2 linked regions of the Homo sapiens genome follow. The protein of the gene in region 1 purifies or fractionates together with the protein of each later gene. This does not show direct contact. Each region holds a gene or a part of one and is shown on either strand. Other genes may lie near its edges.

Evidence for each region. Proteins that work in one complex are often made in the same cells at the same time.
Region 2: the proteins of TRIM6 (region 1) and ACTG2 purify together in Homo sapiens (affinity purification with mass spectrometry, with the first as the bait; 2 studies listed by BioGRID). This does not show direct contact.

Annotation. Positions count from the first base shown.
Region 1 is NC_000011.10:5,605,756-5,614,774, reverse strand, and holds the end of TRIM6 (tripartite motif-containing protein 6), read right to left. Parts: intron 6,404-9,019; coding exon 6,381-6,403; intron 4,631-6,380; coding exon 4,530-4,630; intron 4,241-4,529; coding exon 4,214-4,240; intron 3,999-4,213; coding exon 3,433-3,998; 3' UTR 1,823-3,432; downstream 1-1,822. Other genes in the region: TRIM6-TRIM34 (tripartite motif-containing 6 and tripartite motif-containing 34), read right to left, coding at 4,214-4,240, 4,530-4,630, 6,381-6,403.
Region 2 is NC_000002.12:73,903,007-73,911,193, reverse strand, and holds part of ACTG2 (actin, gamma-enteric smooth muscle isoform 1 precursor), read right to left. Parts: intron 2,522-8,187; coding exon 2,411-2,521; intron 2,140-2,410; coding exon 2,055-2,139; intron 1-2,054. UniProt on the Homo sapiens protein: Actins are highly conserved proteins that are involved in various types of cell motility and are ubiquitously expressed in all eukaryotic cells.

The sequences.
Region 1 (9,019 bases):
AAAAGATTATTTTTAAGTTAGAATCAAACTTACATGCCAGCTCTAACAAGCACTCGCTTGTTGGGAAATATTAGGATAACTATACCACATGTCTAGAACTTTAGTGACAATACAGTTCTCTTTTACAAACTTTAGGCTATAGAATGGAATTAACATAGTTCCAGAAAAAAGCTGAGATCCTGAGTCCTCTATAATGGGAAAAAGGATTACTTAGGGTTCCAGGCAGTTTCCACCAAAATCTGAGTTTTCTTTTCCTTGAAATTTGATTGTACATGATTGCATACAGCTAGACATTTAAAAAATCTTTACAGTTAGGTTTAGCCCTATGGCTATTCTCATTAATAGAAAATGAGCAGATATTACGAATCCCATCTATGAACTAAGGATTTAAAAAGCACGTTTTCTCCCCTAAGTTTTCTTCACCTTTCTGCCAGCTTCATGCTGTTACCATTCTGGGGTACAGCAAGTGCCACAAGATGAAAGCAAGCTTGGTGCATGAATCCCACATGGAACAGTGCCACTCACCACCAGTTACATACACTCATGACCGATTGTTTTACATTAACAAGAAGTACATTTCTTTAGTATTTGATCCATTATGTATTTTTAGAGTTCTTTTTCATAGTAGTTGAGCCTACTCTATCACATGTCAAGAACAGAAGGCCTCTGTCAAGCCCCCATAACCCCTCAAGAAAAGGTCAGAGCTGTGAACTTACCCTAATAATTGTCCCCAAGTCTCAGATTGAGCAACCTTCCCCAGGTCTTACCTATAGAATTCCAGCAAGTACTTAGTTTGGCTTTCACTATTATCTAAAGTCATTCACTGGACAATACTTTGGGTTCTCCAAGTGAATTTACTTATAAAGAAGTAAATATCACAATAAAGCTGTTAAGAAAGTCCCTCTCCCTTCCAAAATCTTCTTTTTAAGTTAGCATCAAACTTAAATATCGGCTCTAGCAAGCACTCACATTTTGGGAAATATTAGGATAACTATACCACATCCCTAGAACTCTGGTGACAAAAAAGAAAAATTACTTATAAAGTAAATTCACTTGGAAAGTAAATTTACTTGTAAAATGAGTTTACAGAAGAGAGCTGGGCTAACTCTTTTGCCTAGAACTTACTTATTATATGGGAAAATAAGTGGGAAGGGGATAACTACTCCAGCAGATCTTTCTCTTTCCTGAACTTCCACCAGCCCCATAGGTCCCAGTCAGCTGGCCCTATCTCCTTTTATATCTCTTCCAATTGAAACGCAGACCAGGATAAGGAGTTTGCATCCAGCCTCTGGGCTTCCACAGATATGATCTCCCAAATATTATAAAACGGTGCCTTAGAACAAACCAGTAGTGAGCTTTTACTATAATCTGCACTACTTTATCTCACCATAGACACCCAAGCTGAGCCTTGATAACAAATCAGTGTTTCATCAAACCATGAAGGAGCTTCAAGTGCCCAACAGACTGAGGACTAACGGCAGGGGCCAGAGTCTGCAGAATCATTCTCTGGTCATGAGCCCTTTCTATGATCTTCCAAATTTCTACACTTCTAGATATGTTGAGATCTTCTTTTCTCTGTCATTACCTTCCATAAAAATGCCTCAGGGCAGCTGGGAAGGTGCAGGTTCTGTAGAGATAAACATATGTGCCTTGAAACCTCCTCTGTATCCTGAGTCCATAGGCTTTTACACTAGGGCTCACTTAGGGACAGAAATTTCATTATAGGATCTACTCCAGAGTTGTCCAATAGAAATACAATGTAAGCCACATATGTAATTTTAAGGTTTCTAGTATCCACATTAAAAAAGTAAAATGAAACAGGTAAAATGAATAACATACTTTATTTAATCCAATAGAGCCAACATATTATCATTGCAATACACAAAGGAAAAGTTATTAGTGAGATATTTTACATTATTTTTTGAAGTAGGTATTTGAAATCTGGTATATATTTTATACATTGAGCACATCTCAATTCAGACTAGGCATGTATGAAGTACTCAACAGACATTGGTGGCTCCTGGATACCATATGGGACAGCCAGTGCCATTCTCATCCTTGATATTTGTTTCTACCCTCACATGTACCTCTTAATTTCTTTTATAGCTGGTTCAAAAAACATATTGCACCTCTCTACCAAAGTCATAGCAGCTCACTCAACAGCTGTTTGTTCCTGCGCATAAAGAGAGTGTGGAAAAGCTGGAAGAAATCATCCTCTTCCTTTAAGTGCTTTATATTGTTCATATTTTCTCTTTGTGTTTTCTTTCTATTCTGAGAGAAAAATATGTATTGGATTGTTTTTCTCTCCCCACTACTCTTTTGTTTTTACTGCAATTAATTTGAAAGACGTATTTTTTTTTATTGTTCTATTGCTACTCTTAAATGTAGAGAGGAAGGCCAAAGGTTGTAGTGAAGATTGTAGTGAAGACTCTCTTCAATTTGAGTTTGAAGCTACCCAAATTATCATTATAATGGTTTGGTTTTAGAGCTCAATCCTATACATACTTATACAAAAACAAAGTAATTTATTTGCTTATTATTGCATTTTATAGAACCTGGCAAAGATATTACAAGAATGTAAAAATACAGGCCAATTTCTTTCATTAACATAGATGAGAACAAAATCTAAACAATACGTTATCAAAATAAATCCAGTATTGCATACAACAAATAATAATGGTGTATTTCAGCAAGTTGTGGTAACAAATTGAAGTAAATCAATGTACTAAGCCACATTAACAGAACAAAAATGATACACAATTGTCTCAATAATTTACAGAAAAGACATAGGTAGAATACGAGTTTTCATTTTATACAAAAACTTGTAGTAAATTAACAGATCAGAACTTCCTAAATTTGATCCCCTGCATCAATCAAAAAAAACCTGCATCAAATACTATGCTTAATGGCAAAATACTGAAAGCGCCCCCTATCCACCTCAAGACCTGTCATCAGTCAAAGATGCTTACTCTCACCACTGGGTGCATCCTAGTACTGAGTAACTGTTTAAAACGAAAGAACTGTCTGGGCGCGGCGGCTCACATCTGTAATCCCAGCACTTTGGGAGACCGAGGCGGGTGGATCACTTGCGGTCAGGAGTTCGAGATCAGCCTGGCCAACACGGTGAAACCCTATCTCTATAAAAATACAAAAATTAGTTGGGCATGGTGGTGGGTGCCTGTAATCCCAGCTACTTGGGATGCTGAGGCAGGAGGTTCGCTTGAACCCAGGAGGCAGAGGTTGCAGTGAGCCGAGATTGCGCCAGTGCACTCCAGCCTGGGCGACAGAGCGAGATTCCATCTCAAAAAAGATTCAAAAACCAAAAAACAACAAAAGAATTGAGAACACAGAAAAACAGAAGATCAGAAGGGAGAATCACATGCTGATAAGCCTCAGGGTACTTATCAGAAGTGGGTGGGAACAGAAGAATATTCAAGAGCTTGGACGACGCAGGGTCATAGGAATTACACAGTTGCAAGGATTAAAATATGGACAAAGAGTAGTGGGAAAGTAATATTTAGAGAAAGTGTAGATGGGGAAGCCATGGTTTGTGACATTATAAAAGGAGACAGTACCAGCCTCATAATCTAAGAAAACCCCAACACGGCGAGGGGGCACTGTCATGGAGAGAAGCAGGGAAGGGGAAGAATCCTCATAGGCCCTATATTCATGGTTATGCTGTAACCCAATCACCCAGTATCCACTCTGAGGCTGATACCTGGAGTAAGCACTGTGATTTTGAGCAAAATGGTTGAAAGAGAATGTAGGTCCCAGTGAATTGCTGCATACCCCCAGGATCCAGGCAGTCTTCTTGGCCACATCTACCTCCCAGTAATGCTTACCAGAGGAGAAGTGCTGGGAGCCCAGGACACTACAGTCATAATGCTTTTCCAGACAGGAAGGTCCAGATACTTTAGCTCCCACAAACCTCACTTGTCTCCGGTTTTTAGCCAGGACAAGATTTAAATTAGCTGTGTGTGGATTCAGGGTCACGTCAACTGTAGGAAAAGGTACAACATCAGCAGATGAGAACGGGGACATGGGTCTCGTTATGCTGAGAAGAGGAAACACAGGAAGTGGTTGGAGGAACTGGAACTATATGGCGGGGATGGGGGAGGCATCAACACCTAGGATCTGTGTGGCTATGTCTGGGGAGGGCATGTGAAAGGAGATCAGAATGTGCCAGCCCAAAGAGGCCATGGCTTCTACTTACCCCAGTAGCTTTGGACATCTGTCAGCTCTGTAATGATGAAAAGAGTCAATAATGTTGAATAGGACCAACTGTCTCATGTCTGGTATCTCTCTCCTTACTACATTGAGGGGAATGGTGAGGAATCCTGTGAGGATGTCACCTGGCCATTTCATCTCCCCTTAAATACAAACCGCATCTTCTTCAGCACACTATGTCCCTCCCTCTGGGACCTCCCTCTTTGCCACTATGCTCAAATACCGACTATAGCCTCTATCCCGTTTATTTCTTCCCACGACAGTAATTTCACATCCAAACTCTTTCCCCTGAATCTCCTTACCTCTACACACTCGCAGCATCCTTTTCAGATCTGGGGCTCGGAACATACTTCTCAGCTTTGTAGGGAGAGCTTCTGGCTTCCTCAGGGTCCAGAACTCACTCCTAGAAAGGACAGGACTTCTGAGTTCCCACACTGCTGACTGTGGGTTCCTCCACCACCCATCTCCCTTACCTCCCAAGCCTACTGATGAATTCCAATCCTCCTTTCTGAATACACTTAGCATCATTCTGCAAACAGCCCTGGCACTGGAGCCAGAAGAGCTAGACTAGAAACTATCATCTCACCATCTACATAAACTTGTGTAAGATTTAACTTTTTTTTTTGAGAAGGAGTCTCGCTCTGTCACCCAGGCTGGAGTGCAGTGGCACGATCTCGGCTCACTGCAACCTCCACCTCCCAGGTTCAAGCGATTCTCCTGCCTCAGCCTTCTGAGTAGCTGGGACTACAGGCGCGTGCCACCACGCCTGGCTAATTTTCTTGTATATTTAGTAGAGATAGGGTTTCATCATGTTAGCCAGGATGGTTTTGATCTCCTGACCTCGTGATCTGCCCTCCTCAGCCTCCCAAAGTGCTGGGATTACAGGTGTGAGTCACTGCGCCTGTCCAAGATTTAACTTCTTAAAGTCTCATTTTGTTTTTCTGTTGTTGTTTTTAGAAAATACTATAATTTTCCTTTTTCTGTGTCCTAGAGATGTTATGCAGTTCAGTAAAATAATGGCTTGGAAATCTTTTGCTACCTCTAAAAAAAGATATAAAATATTTAAAATCAGAGGGGTTGAAGATGTCTGGGTTGACAGGCAGAACACCAGGGGCCTATTGCTGGGGCTTTGAAAGTATCAAATGAAGGGGTTTCTTCAGAAGAGTCTGTGGGCTTAGGCCCTGGGATTTCTCAGAAAACCTTCAAAACAGCATTTTAGGATTTGCCGTCTCTGGGAATGTTATGCCACTAGCTGGAGAAAAGATGTCCTCACCTCCAAACGGAGAGTACAGATTTCAGAAGGGACGATAGGGTTCCCATTTCGTGTGTCTGTGAGGAGCATGGAGGAACCAAGTGTGCAAGCAGCTTGACATGTCACCTTGTTGGATGAGACTCTGGAGTATGTGATAGAGAACATGTTTGATTCCCGGGCTAAATTATTATCCTCCAGAGCTCGGGTTTACGTTTTTACTGGAATTGAGACAAAAGAAAATCTACTAGGGAGCAAGGCCTGGGAGAAAGAAAAACTTAAGGCAGATGTGCCAAGACCAAATTCTTAGACCTTGAGAAATAATGCAGATGGGAATGTCACTCTGATAAAATTCACGGGCAGGAAGGTGCAGTGAGCCGAGATCACACCACTGCACTCCAGCCTGGGCGACAGAGTGAAACTCTGTCTCAAAAAAAAAAAAAAAAAAAAATTTATGGGCAAAGAAAATTCCTGTGTATTTTGAGGTAACTATAAACTTAAGAATCAGGGATGAAAGCAGGCACAGAGGTTTATGGAAAAGTACACTAACAGGGTACTTGGGGAGTCACTGATACTGCAACTCTTTATTCATTTTTTTTTGTTTGTTTGAGGCAGAGTCTCCCTTTGTCTCCCAGGCTGGAGTGCAGTGGCGCAATACTGCAACTCTTTATTCTAAATAACAGTACTGTCCCCACCTACTGACCTCCCATCACCCACATTTTCCTACCAGAGAGGCCAGTTCATCCCCTTTATTTGGGGATGCCAAAACTCCATGTGATGCGCGATTCAAGACTACTCTCTTGAATCTTCCCCACTCTGATTCTTCTTCCCTTTCCCACTGATCATGGGTAAAGGAATCATTTGTCAGTCCAGGGGAACTACCTCATGTTCTCCTTACACATACCTTTCTGTGACATCACTCACATCCTAGGAAGGAAAAAGACAGGTTAAGTCAAGGAGTAACAGGTCATGCCCTTATCCACATTTCTCCTTCCATGTCCCCTACCCCATGATATGATACAAATAAAGATAATCCTAATGTGGAGGCCACAAAGTAGAGAAAAAACTCAGGGCAGACTGTCCCTAAGAACCCATGTGAAGACATCAAAAAATAACTCAATTGACTCATCAGTGTCTTGATTTTCACAACATTGTGTGTGTGCATATGTGTGTGTAATGTTATGTATGTATAGCATGTATTATTTGTCAGGCATTGTGCCTGGCCTAGAGAACCTCAGATGATGAAGTCATAATTTCTATCCTTGAGTAGCTTACATCCTGTTCTGGTTGCTGAAGATACAGGCTCATGGACTTTATATATGGCTGTTTCTCAAACTTCACCTTCTCTAACCTTCTACCCTACCTTTGCTGACTTCATCCATTTCCTTCATTTTAATGTACACATGTTGATGATTCTCAAATCTGTACTTCTGCTCAGCCCCCTTTCCTTATGATTTTGATTAATATATACACCAGCAAATATGTCACAGGTACCTCAAATGCAAGATGTTTAAAAGAACTTAGTTCGGCAACTCTTGTCTCCCTTCCATCCTACTGAATCACACTAGCAACCACTTAAGTCACCAAATTTAAACAAAATAGGAAATAACTACCATATATTCACCCTGGCATCCTATCTTTGCCCAAGTCAGTCCACTTCACATCCTCAATTTCATTTGGTCACCAGTTGTTCACCTTTATCACTGCCACTGCTAGTCTCATTTCTGTGGAATTGGCCTATTCCTTTCTATTTGGTCTTTTTATCTTGTGCTCCATACATCTCAATGACCCCGAAGAAAAGCTTAAGTTTGGTCCACATAATACAGGATTAACTATTTTCTCTGTATTAGGGCTGTTTATGGTGGCATTTCATAGAGGCACAACTCAAACTGGCTTGAACATAGAATGTGGTAGAGGTGCTGTGTGTGTCAATTTGCAGTAAATATCCAGGATTGTATCAATCTTACATTGTGGCTGTACTGAGGAACTGAAATGATCAAATCGATGTGCTATTTCATGTGGCTACTTCTCTTATGTTGGCTTTATGTCCATATTTTGAAGCTTTTATCTTGGCTATAAAATATTTTTTTTTTTTGAGATGGAGTCTTGCTCTGTCGCCCAGGCTGGAGTGCAGTGGTGCGATCTCGGCTCACTGCACGCTCCGCCTCCTGGGTTCGCGCCATTCTCCTGCCTCAGCCTCCCGAGTAGCTGGGACTACAGGCGCCCGCCACCACGCCCGGCTAATTTTTTTGTGTTTTTAGTAGAGACGGGGTTTCACCGTGTTAGCCAGGATGGTCTCAATCTCCTGACCTCATGATCCGCCTGCCTCGGCCTCCCAAAGTGCTGGGATTACAGGCGTGAGCCACCGCGCTCGGCCTTGGCTATAAAATCTTAATGGGCAACAATTCACACAGATATGGAAAAGAGAAAGAACAATGTCTGTGATGGGAAAATTCCAGAAAGTTTATTTTTAGAAAAGACTACTCAAGTTTAAATGTCCGTGGGGCAGTCATACTAATGAATGTGGAAGTGTCTAAACTAGCAATATGAATTGACGATTCATTTGCATTTAAAAAATATTTACAGTTTGAGGACTGTTGAGGAGCCAGAACAAAAGGTGAAGGAGAAAGTATCAGGGTAATAATATCAATGATGAGGACAAAAAGGCAAGAAGAATAAAATGAAGATGCAAAGCAGGAAGCAGTGAATGAGAAAAAGCTGTAACAGGCAGAAAGTAGCTACCCATGGCTCTAATACTAAGACCCAAGAATATGTAAATAAACAATTATTCCACCAAGAAAGAAGGAGCAAGAGGAAAGCACGAAGACAAACAAAATATAAAGAATATCTTACACTCTGAAGGTTACAGAATATCACAAGCTACATCATGCCTCAAATTCACAACCACACTATTCATTCTATGCAGAAAATAGCTGCTAGAATTTCAACCTCAGTTCAAGTCCCTCCATCAAATCTCTCTAGGCTTGATACCTTGTAATCTGCGACCTACACACATACAGACCAGAGCCCAGACCCCCAAAACCAGTTCAAATATCAATTGCTACAGTATGTTAAATGATTCTGCTCTAGAGAAGAGAGTGAAAACAAAGAAGGGCTGGTAATACATCATCTCTAAGAATTTAGCTTGGCGTAAGTGTGCCTGTGACTAAGCTGGGTAAGAAGCACTTGGCAAATTCCCAACACAGCATCAGAGACGAGAGGTGCCTAATGAACAGTGGTTCTCAACTGGGAGAGCACTGTGTTCACCCTGGGGCTATCGTGGCAATGTCTGAAGAAATTTGGGGTTGTCACATCTGGGGTGGTGCTGCTGACATCTAGTGAGCAGAGGCCAGAGACGCTGCTAAGCATCCTACAATGTACAGGAGAACCCCACGCAGCAAAGAATTATCCAGCCAGAAATGTAAATAGTGCCAAGACTGAGAAAGAAAGAACAACATCACTGGATACAACAGAACTTCTCCACAGCATCAAATAAACTTTTAGACAACCCTTTATAAATAAAAATGGGACTTTCCCTTGCAT
Region 2 (8,187 bases), on another chromosome or scaffold:
TCATTATTTTAAAGTGTACTCCTTCTACTTATTAAATAAAAAGTTGACTGTAAAACAGCCTTAGGCAGGTCCTTCCGGAGATATTCCAGAAGGAGGTATTGTTATCATAGGAGATGACAGCTCCATGCATGTTATTAACCCTGAAGACCTTCCAGTGGGCCAAGATGTGGAGATGAAATACAGTGGTATTGATGATCCTGAACCTGTGTAGGCCGAGGCTAATGTGTATATTTTAGTTTTTATCAAAAAAGCTCTAAAAGTAAAAAATAAAATAAAATAAATTTAATAGAAAAAAGCTTGTAGAATAAAGGATATAAATGAAACTATTTTTGGCTGGGGGTGATGATCACACCTGTAATCCCAGTACTTTGGGAGGCTGAGGTGGGCAGATCACTTGAGATCAGGAGTTCGAGACCAGCCTGGCCAACATGAGATGGATCTGGAGAGGAGAATGGTCAGCCCTGGAAATTTCTGATCGACATTTAAAGGGTGTACTCCTTTTTTTTCTCTACTAAATAAAGACAAAAATAAGCCAGGCATGGTGGCACGCTCCTGTAGTCCCAGCTACTTGGGAGTTTGAGGCATGAGAATCACTTGAACCTAGGAGGCGGAGGTTGCAGTGAGCTGAGATCGCACTACTGCACTCCAGCCTGGGTGACAGAGTGAGACTTCATCTCAAAAAAAAAAAAAAAAAAAAGTCATGGGAGGCTGAGGCAGGAGAATCGTTTGAACGTGGGAGACAGAGGTTGCAATGAGCCGAGATCACGCTACTGCACTCCAGCCTGGTGACAGAGCAAGGCTCCGTCTCAAAAAAAAAAAAAAAAAAAAGTCGAAAAAAGATGTTTTTCTATTACTGTCACTACAAAAAAAGTAAAAATGGCTTTAAAAATTAAAAAGTTTATAAGGTAAAAAACATTACAGTAAGCTAAGGTTAATTTATTATTGAAGAAAGAATAATATATATATATACATATTTTTTGAGACGGAGTCTCGCTCTGTCACACAGGCTGGAGGGCAGTGGCGTGATCTTGGCTCACTGCAACCTCTGCCTCCCAGGTTCAAGTGACTCTTCTGCCTCAGCCTCCCAAGTAGCTGGGATTACAGGTGCCTGACACCACGTCCAACTAATTTTTGTATTTTTAGTAGAGACGGGGTTTCACCGTGTTGGCCAGGCTGGTCTGGAACTCCTGACCTCAGGTGATCCGCCCACCTCAGCCTCACAAAGTGCTGGGATTTCAGGTGTGAGCCACTGTGCCTGGCCAAGAATAATATTTTTATAAATGTAGTACAGCCGATGTGTACAGTGTTTATAGTCTACAGTAGTACACAGTAACATTTTAGGTCTTCACATTTTCTCACTACTCACTCACTAACCCACCCAGAGCAACTTCTAGTCTTGCAAGCTCCATTCATGTAAGTGCCCTACACAGGTGTACCATTTTTTATCTTTGATATTATATTTTCACTGTAACTTTTCTATGTTTCAATATGTTTAGCTATACAAATACCTAACCATTCTGTTACAGTTCCCTACAGTATTAATTATAGTTAAATGCTATACTGTCTGTAGCCTGGAAGCAATAGGCCACGCCATACAGCCGGGGCATGTAGTAGGCTACAGCGTCTAGGTTTGTGCAAGTACACTCTCTGATGTTCCCACAGTGACAAAGTCACCTAATGACACACATTTCTCGGAACGTATCCCTGTCATTAAGCAATGTGTAACTGCACTTACATTTCCACCACCACAGGTTCTACTCTTTCTGCTTCATGAAGCAGAAACATTCCAGTATTGTTGGAATGTGTGTATGTGTAGAAGCTCCTGGAATTATTACTGTGAGGGAAACAGTTCTTGCTGGATGTTTTTTCCAACTATACCAGCTAGGCTCACATCTGGCATTCCACATGGGCATTCTCACCTATTATCCCTAAGAAAGATTTTGCCTGGACTTCAGCTGTCCATTTGATTCTTCTGAGCAGGAGCCTCTGCCAGACCCCAGCTTTTCCCTACCTCCCCTGAAGTCAGAAAAGGAATGGATTACAGGATTACTCACCTGTCGTGCGGCCAGAGGCATAGAGGGAGAGCACAGCTTGAATGGCGACGTACATGGCAGGGACATTGAAGGTTTCAAACATGATCTTAAAGGACAATGAAGAATAAAAGATTATTTGGCAAAAATCACAGCACTTCTTGGCCTGTAGAATGGTTTGTAATCTCATTAAGGGCAGGAACTATGCCAGTTTGATAGTTCATTATTCCACACCCACTCCCCCAGGGCCTGGCATGGACCACAGACATAGCAGGTCCTCAGAGAGTTCTGTTGCACTGATGTTTGAAGGGGAGAAAGTATCTGGCCAAGCATCCATGTTGCATTCTTATGCCAGTGTTCAAGTCTTCCTGGCTTCTTACCTGGGTCATCTTTTCCCTGTTGGCCTTGGGATTTAGGGGAGCCTCTGTGAGCAGGGTGGGGTGCTCTTCAGGTGCTACACGCAGCTCATTGTAGAAGGAGTGGTGCCAGATCTAGTGGAGACAAAAGCCATATGAGCCTGGCAGACTCCCAATGGCTGGAAAATTCTCATTGACATTCCCATGCTGGGAGAGTGTGGCACCATGTTACACAGGATGGGATGGATCTGGAGAGGAGAATGGTCAGCCCTGGAAATTTCTGATTGACATTTAAAGGGTATACTCCTTCTCAACAGGGCCCCAGGTAGGACTCAGACCTGGAACCAGTATTTTCTATGTGTTCATTATTTCCATTTGACCTTCCCTCCTCTTCACTCTCCTACAGTCTCTCCCCTGCCTTTGTGCACTGAGTGATGCAAGGCACATTGTATCACTCAAGTGTTCATTGCTTTCTGGCTTCTGGCTATATTTGGCTGATAGAAGATTCCTGCAAGAGGCTGGAAAGTAGGAGGGCAAAAGAAGTCAGGGTCTATCTCCTGACAATGGCGTGGCCCTCCATGAGCACAGTTCCTGTTGGGCAGCCCCTCTTTCAGAGCTCAAGCTCTCACTAAGCTCCAATGACACTGCCCTCGTCACCTGACCCCTTCATGTTTAGGGGTGTGAGAGCTCCCTCTGTTGCTGGCTCTTGGGTGCCTCGACATCCCTTTGTAGTTGCCTTAACCCTATGCACATTTCTGTAGGACATTCATTTAACCAGTTGTAAAACCCCAGCTGAGTATACACTGTCAAACAATTTCAAAACCGCAGCTGAGTGTACACTATCTCCTGCTGAGAATCTGACAGAGGCACTTGGGCTCAATTTTCACTGGCTATTATTGGCCAGGCTGGTGCTTTAAAGCAGGGTTTCTCAATCGCAGCTCTATGACATTTTAGGTTGGATAATTCTTTGTTGTGGAGGGCCGACCAGTATCCCTGGTCTCCACCCACTGGATGCTAGCAGCAGTTTTCCAGTTGTGACAATAAAAAATGTCTGCAGACATTGCCAAATGTCCTTTGGGAAGCAAAATCATCCTGGTTAAGAACCACCGCTTAGCCTGGGCAACACACTGTGGGCCTGTCTCTACAAAAAGATAAAAAATTAGCCAGGCATGGTAGCGCCTGCCTGTAATCTCAGCTACTCAGGAGGCTGGGGCAGGAGGATCGCTTGAGCCCAGGAGGTCAAGGCTGCAGTGAGCTGTGATCATGGCACTGCACTCCAGCCTGGGCAACAGAGCAAAACCCTGTCTCAAAAATAAAAAAGAACCACTGTTTTAGAGGAAGTTAATTTCTTCCTGTGTCCAGTTCCTTCTTCAGTGATCAAGTACGACCAAAAAGGAGTCTTTCAGAGGGATTGGGCAAAGTGTAGCAGGGACATGGGGCTTTGGTTTCCTCAGAGGTGAGGCACAGGGTCATTTGATGCCATTGGACCCATGTATTTATGGACCGCCAGGTTTGTGCTAAGACGGTGGTAAGTGTGATGAGGGCAGATATGAATCAGACATGGCACCCTATTCTCAGTTGCAAAGTCCAGAGGGGAGAGAGACGTTTAAAAAAGACCAAAACAAACAAAAAGAAAAACACAAGCCACATTTTAAGTGAAAGAAGAGGTAGGAGTAATTCATTATCTGAGGGATTTAAATGGGCCTTGAGGGCAAAAGAAGGTCTCCAGAGGCTGCTGCAAAAGGCATCCGAGGCAGAGGGAATGGCACAGGCAGAGGCCCTGGACTGTGAGCATTGCACAGGAGCCTGAAGGACAGCAACTGGTCTTAAGGAGGGGACCCCATGCTACTTAAAATGTGCTTCCTCAAGGCCCTGTCTCAGAGTCACCTGGGATCATCTGACCCACTGAACCAGAATCCTTGGGTGTTGGGCTCAAGCATCTGCACTTGATTTTGGTTTCTTTTTTGGAGTTTTTATACCTTAAAAGTTAAAGATGTTGATAATTTTTAAAGTTAGAAAAATATTTTTAAGGTCGAGTGTGGTGACTTATGCCTGTAATCCCAGCACTTTGGGGAGCTGAGACAGGCAGATTGCTTGAGCCCAGGGGTTGGAGACCAGCCTGGGTAACAAAGTGAGACCCTGTCTCTACAAAAAATTAAAAAATCAACTGGATGTGGTGTGCACCTCTGTTCCCAGCTACACCGGAGACAGAGGCAAGAGGATTCCTTGAGCCCAGGAGGCCAAGACCACAGTGAGTTATGACTGCACCACTGCACTCCGGCCTGGGCGACAGAGGAAGATCCTAGCTCAAAATTTTTATGTATTTATTTATTTATTTATTTTTTATTTTTTATTTTGAGATGGAGTCTTGCTCTGTCGCCCAGGCTGGAGTACAGTGGCGCCATCTCGGCTCACTGCAAGCTCCGCCTCCCGGGTTCACGGCATTCTCCTGCGTCAGCCTCCCGAGTAGCTGGGACTACGGGTGCCCACCACCACACCTGGCTAATTTTTTGTATTTTTAGTAGAGATGTGGTTTCACCGTGTTAGCCAGGATGGTCTCAATCTCCTGACCTCGTGATCCACCCGCCTCCGCCTCCCAAAGTGCTGGGATTACAGGCGTGAGCCACCGCGCCCGGCCAAAATTTTTTTTAATGGAATAAAAATCTCCCCTATGTCCATCACCTAACAACAAACAGTTAACATTTTGGCTTTTTTCTTTTTCCTAACCTTTGTCTTTATGTATTTTTAAATTTATTACTATCATTATTTATTTCATATTCTTTTATTTATTATATTATTATACTATGTTCAAATTTGTTTTTATAACAAATTATTTTACTTTTCATAATAAATATTTATTTTTGATAAACTTAAACTTTTGAAAATGCTTATATAACATTTTATCATATACTATCATATATTTAATCACATTACTATTCATGGTGTCTTTGATTTTTGGTTATAAATAATCCTATGATAGTTATCTTTGTGCATATTGCAATTTATTTTTTGTATTCAGGATGTTTTCCAAAGAAGAAGATTCTAAAAGTGGAATGACTGGGCTAAAGAACATAGCAATTGGAAGACTTTCTGATTTCTGTTATTAACAAATAGGCTAAACCAATCTTTACTTCAGAATAAAAAAGTGGCTGTTTTACCCCATTCTTAACTGAATTCAGTGCTCTCACTCTTAAAATATGAAATAATTTGATAGGTAAAAATCATACCTAGTTATTTTACTTCAATTTTTTTGTTTCAAATGAGTTTAAATTTTTTCACATTTGCAACTTTTCATAATTTCTGTTCAGCTAATTAACTGTTTTTTATTTGTCTGGGGGACACTTCATATTTTTAATTGTCAATTTGCATTAACTGTTCATATTAATCCCTCATTGCCCTTTTGTTTTGCAATTTGTTATTTGGCTTTTAAATTTGGTTATTTTTGAGATATTAAAAGTTACGATTTTTTAAGAAGTCAAATTTGTCATTCTTTTTCTCTATGACCACTCTTACCAGAAATTTGATTAAATGCTCACATTAACTGTATTATATTTTTGGTAATTTAAATGTTTACATTTAACTTTTATATTTAATTGACATGTGTTTGGTGAAATGGTATGAGCTTAGGGCTATAAACCAAGATTCTCTAGCTCCAAAAATAACTAATCAGTTGTCCCAGAAATAATTTATTGACTAGTCCTTTCCTCCTTTCTGATGCTGGAAGTTTCATTTATTATATATTTCCTCTTTACCTTTTTGCTGGTATCAAATTGTTTTAACTTTATAATTTATATTGTATTTTATTACATTATGTCTTCCTTCATAATTAAAAAAATTCATTTTGTTCTCATAATTGTTGCTTATTTATTTCTGCAAACATACTTTAGAATTATGTCACATAATTTTTATTGGAATGCAATGAGCCTATAAATTAATTTGAGGACATTTGACACTTTTACCCAATTTGGTTTTTCTTTTAAGGCACACAAGATTATATATATATATATATATATATATATATATATATATACACACACACACACACACACACACACACACACACACACAATGATTTATAGATATATAATGAAATGATTATATAATGAAATGATTTTATATTTATACATATATACATTTTTAAAAAAAAATATATATAGGGTCTCACTCTGTTGCCCAGGCTGGAGTGCAGTGATGCGATCTTGGCTCACTGAAACCTCCACCTCCCAAGTTTAAGTGATTCTCCTGCCTCAGCCTCTGGAGTAGCTGGGACGACAGGTGCTAACCACCACATCCAGCTAATTATTGTTTAGTAGAGACAGGATTTCACCATGTTGGTTGGCCAGGCTGGACTCAAGTGATCCACCTGCCTCAGCCTCCCAAAGTGCTGGGATTACAGGTATGAGCCACTGTGCCCGGCCTTAAGGCACATAATTTATTTTTAAGGGTTTCTTTAAAGAGTTCACATGTTGTCACTACTGTGAATAAAATAGTTTGTCTATTATTTGTCTATTATGTTTTCTTCCTTCCTTCCTTTCTTTTTTTTTTTTTTTTTTTTTTTTGAGACATGGTCTCACTCTATCACCCAGGCTGGAGTGCAGTGGCGTGAACACAGCTCACTGCAGCCTCCACCACCTGGGCTCAAGTGATTCTCATGCCTCAGCCTCCTGAATAGCTGAGACCGCAGTCATGTGTTACCATGCCCAGTGAATTTTTACATTTTTATTTCATAGAGATAGGGTATCACCATGTTGCCCAGGCTGGCCTCAAGCTATCCTCCTGCCTTGGCTTCCCAAAGTGTTGGGATTACAGGCATGAGCCACTGGCCTCTATTATGTGGTTTTTTTTTTGTTTTTTTTTTTTTTTTTTTTGAGACGGAGTCTCACTCTGTCACCCACAGTGGAGTGCAGTGGCACAATCTCGGCTCACTGCAACCTCTGCCTCCCGGGTTCAAGCGATTCTCCTGCCGCAGCCTCCCGAGTAGCTGGGATTACAGGCACCCGCCACCATGTCCAGCTAATTTTTGTATTTTTAGTAGAGACGGGGTTTCATCATGTTGGCCAGGTTGGTCTCAAGCTCCTGATTTTGTGATCCACCCGCCTCGGTCTCCCAAAGTGCTGGGATTACAGGCATAAGCCACCACGCCCGGCCTATTATGTTTTTAAATTAGATACTGTTACATATATATGAATCATATGTGTCACTTATTGAGCACATAAGTATGTTCCATGCCTTGGGATTATACTAAGCATTTAGCTAATTCAATCTTCAAAGCAACCTAATGCACAAAGTGTTTTTTATCTTCACTTTACAAATGGGAAAACTAAGACTTATAGGGTGGGATTTGCACCTGGATTTCCTGCCATTGCCTCTAATGTCTGTGCTCTTACCCACTCCACTGTATAACGTGAAATCCATTGCATTTTATGTGCAGTACTTATCTCACATTGAGTGACTCAGTCTAGGATTTAGAGAAAAGTATAAGTGAATTACAGACTTCAAGTCAACATTCCTCATTTCCAGTTGCAGTCTGCTCAATAAGCCCCCTATCACATTTCCAAAGACAGGCGTTGCAGAAACAAGAACACTCAGCCAACTGTCACCAGAGTTAATCACAAGAATATTAGAAAGGCTCTATTAACATTTTGCACACATAATTTTGTTTACCATGAGCTCCACCATTTAAAAATCCCGCTCCCCCCACAATATTTTCTTAAACAAAAATGCTTCTAGAAACCCTGAGAGAGTTCTACTTAGAAACTTTCACTGGAGACTCATCATCATAGTCTAGCATCAGTCCACCT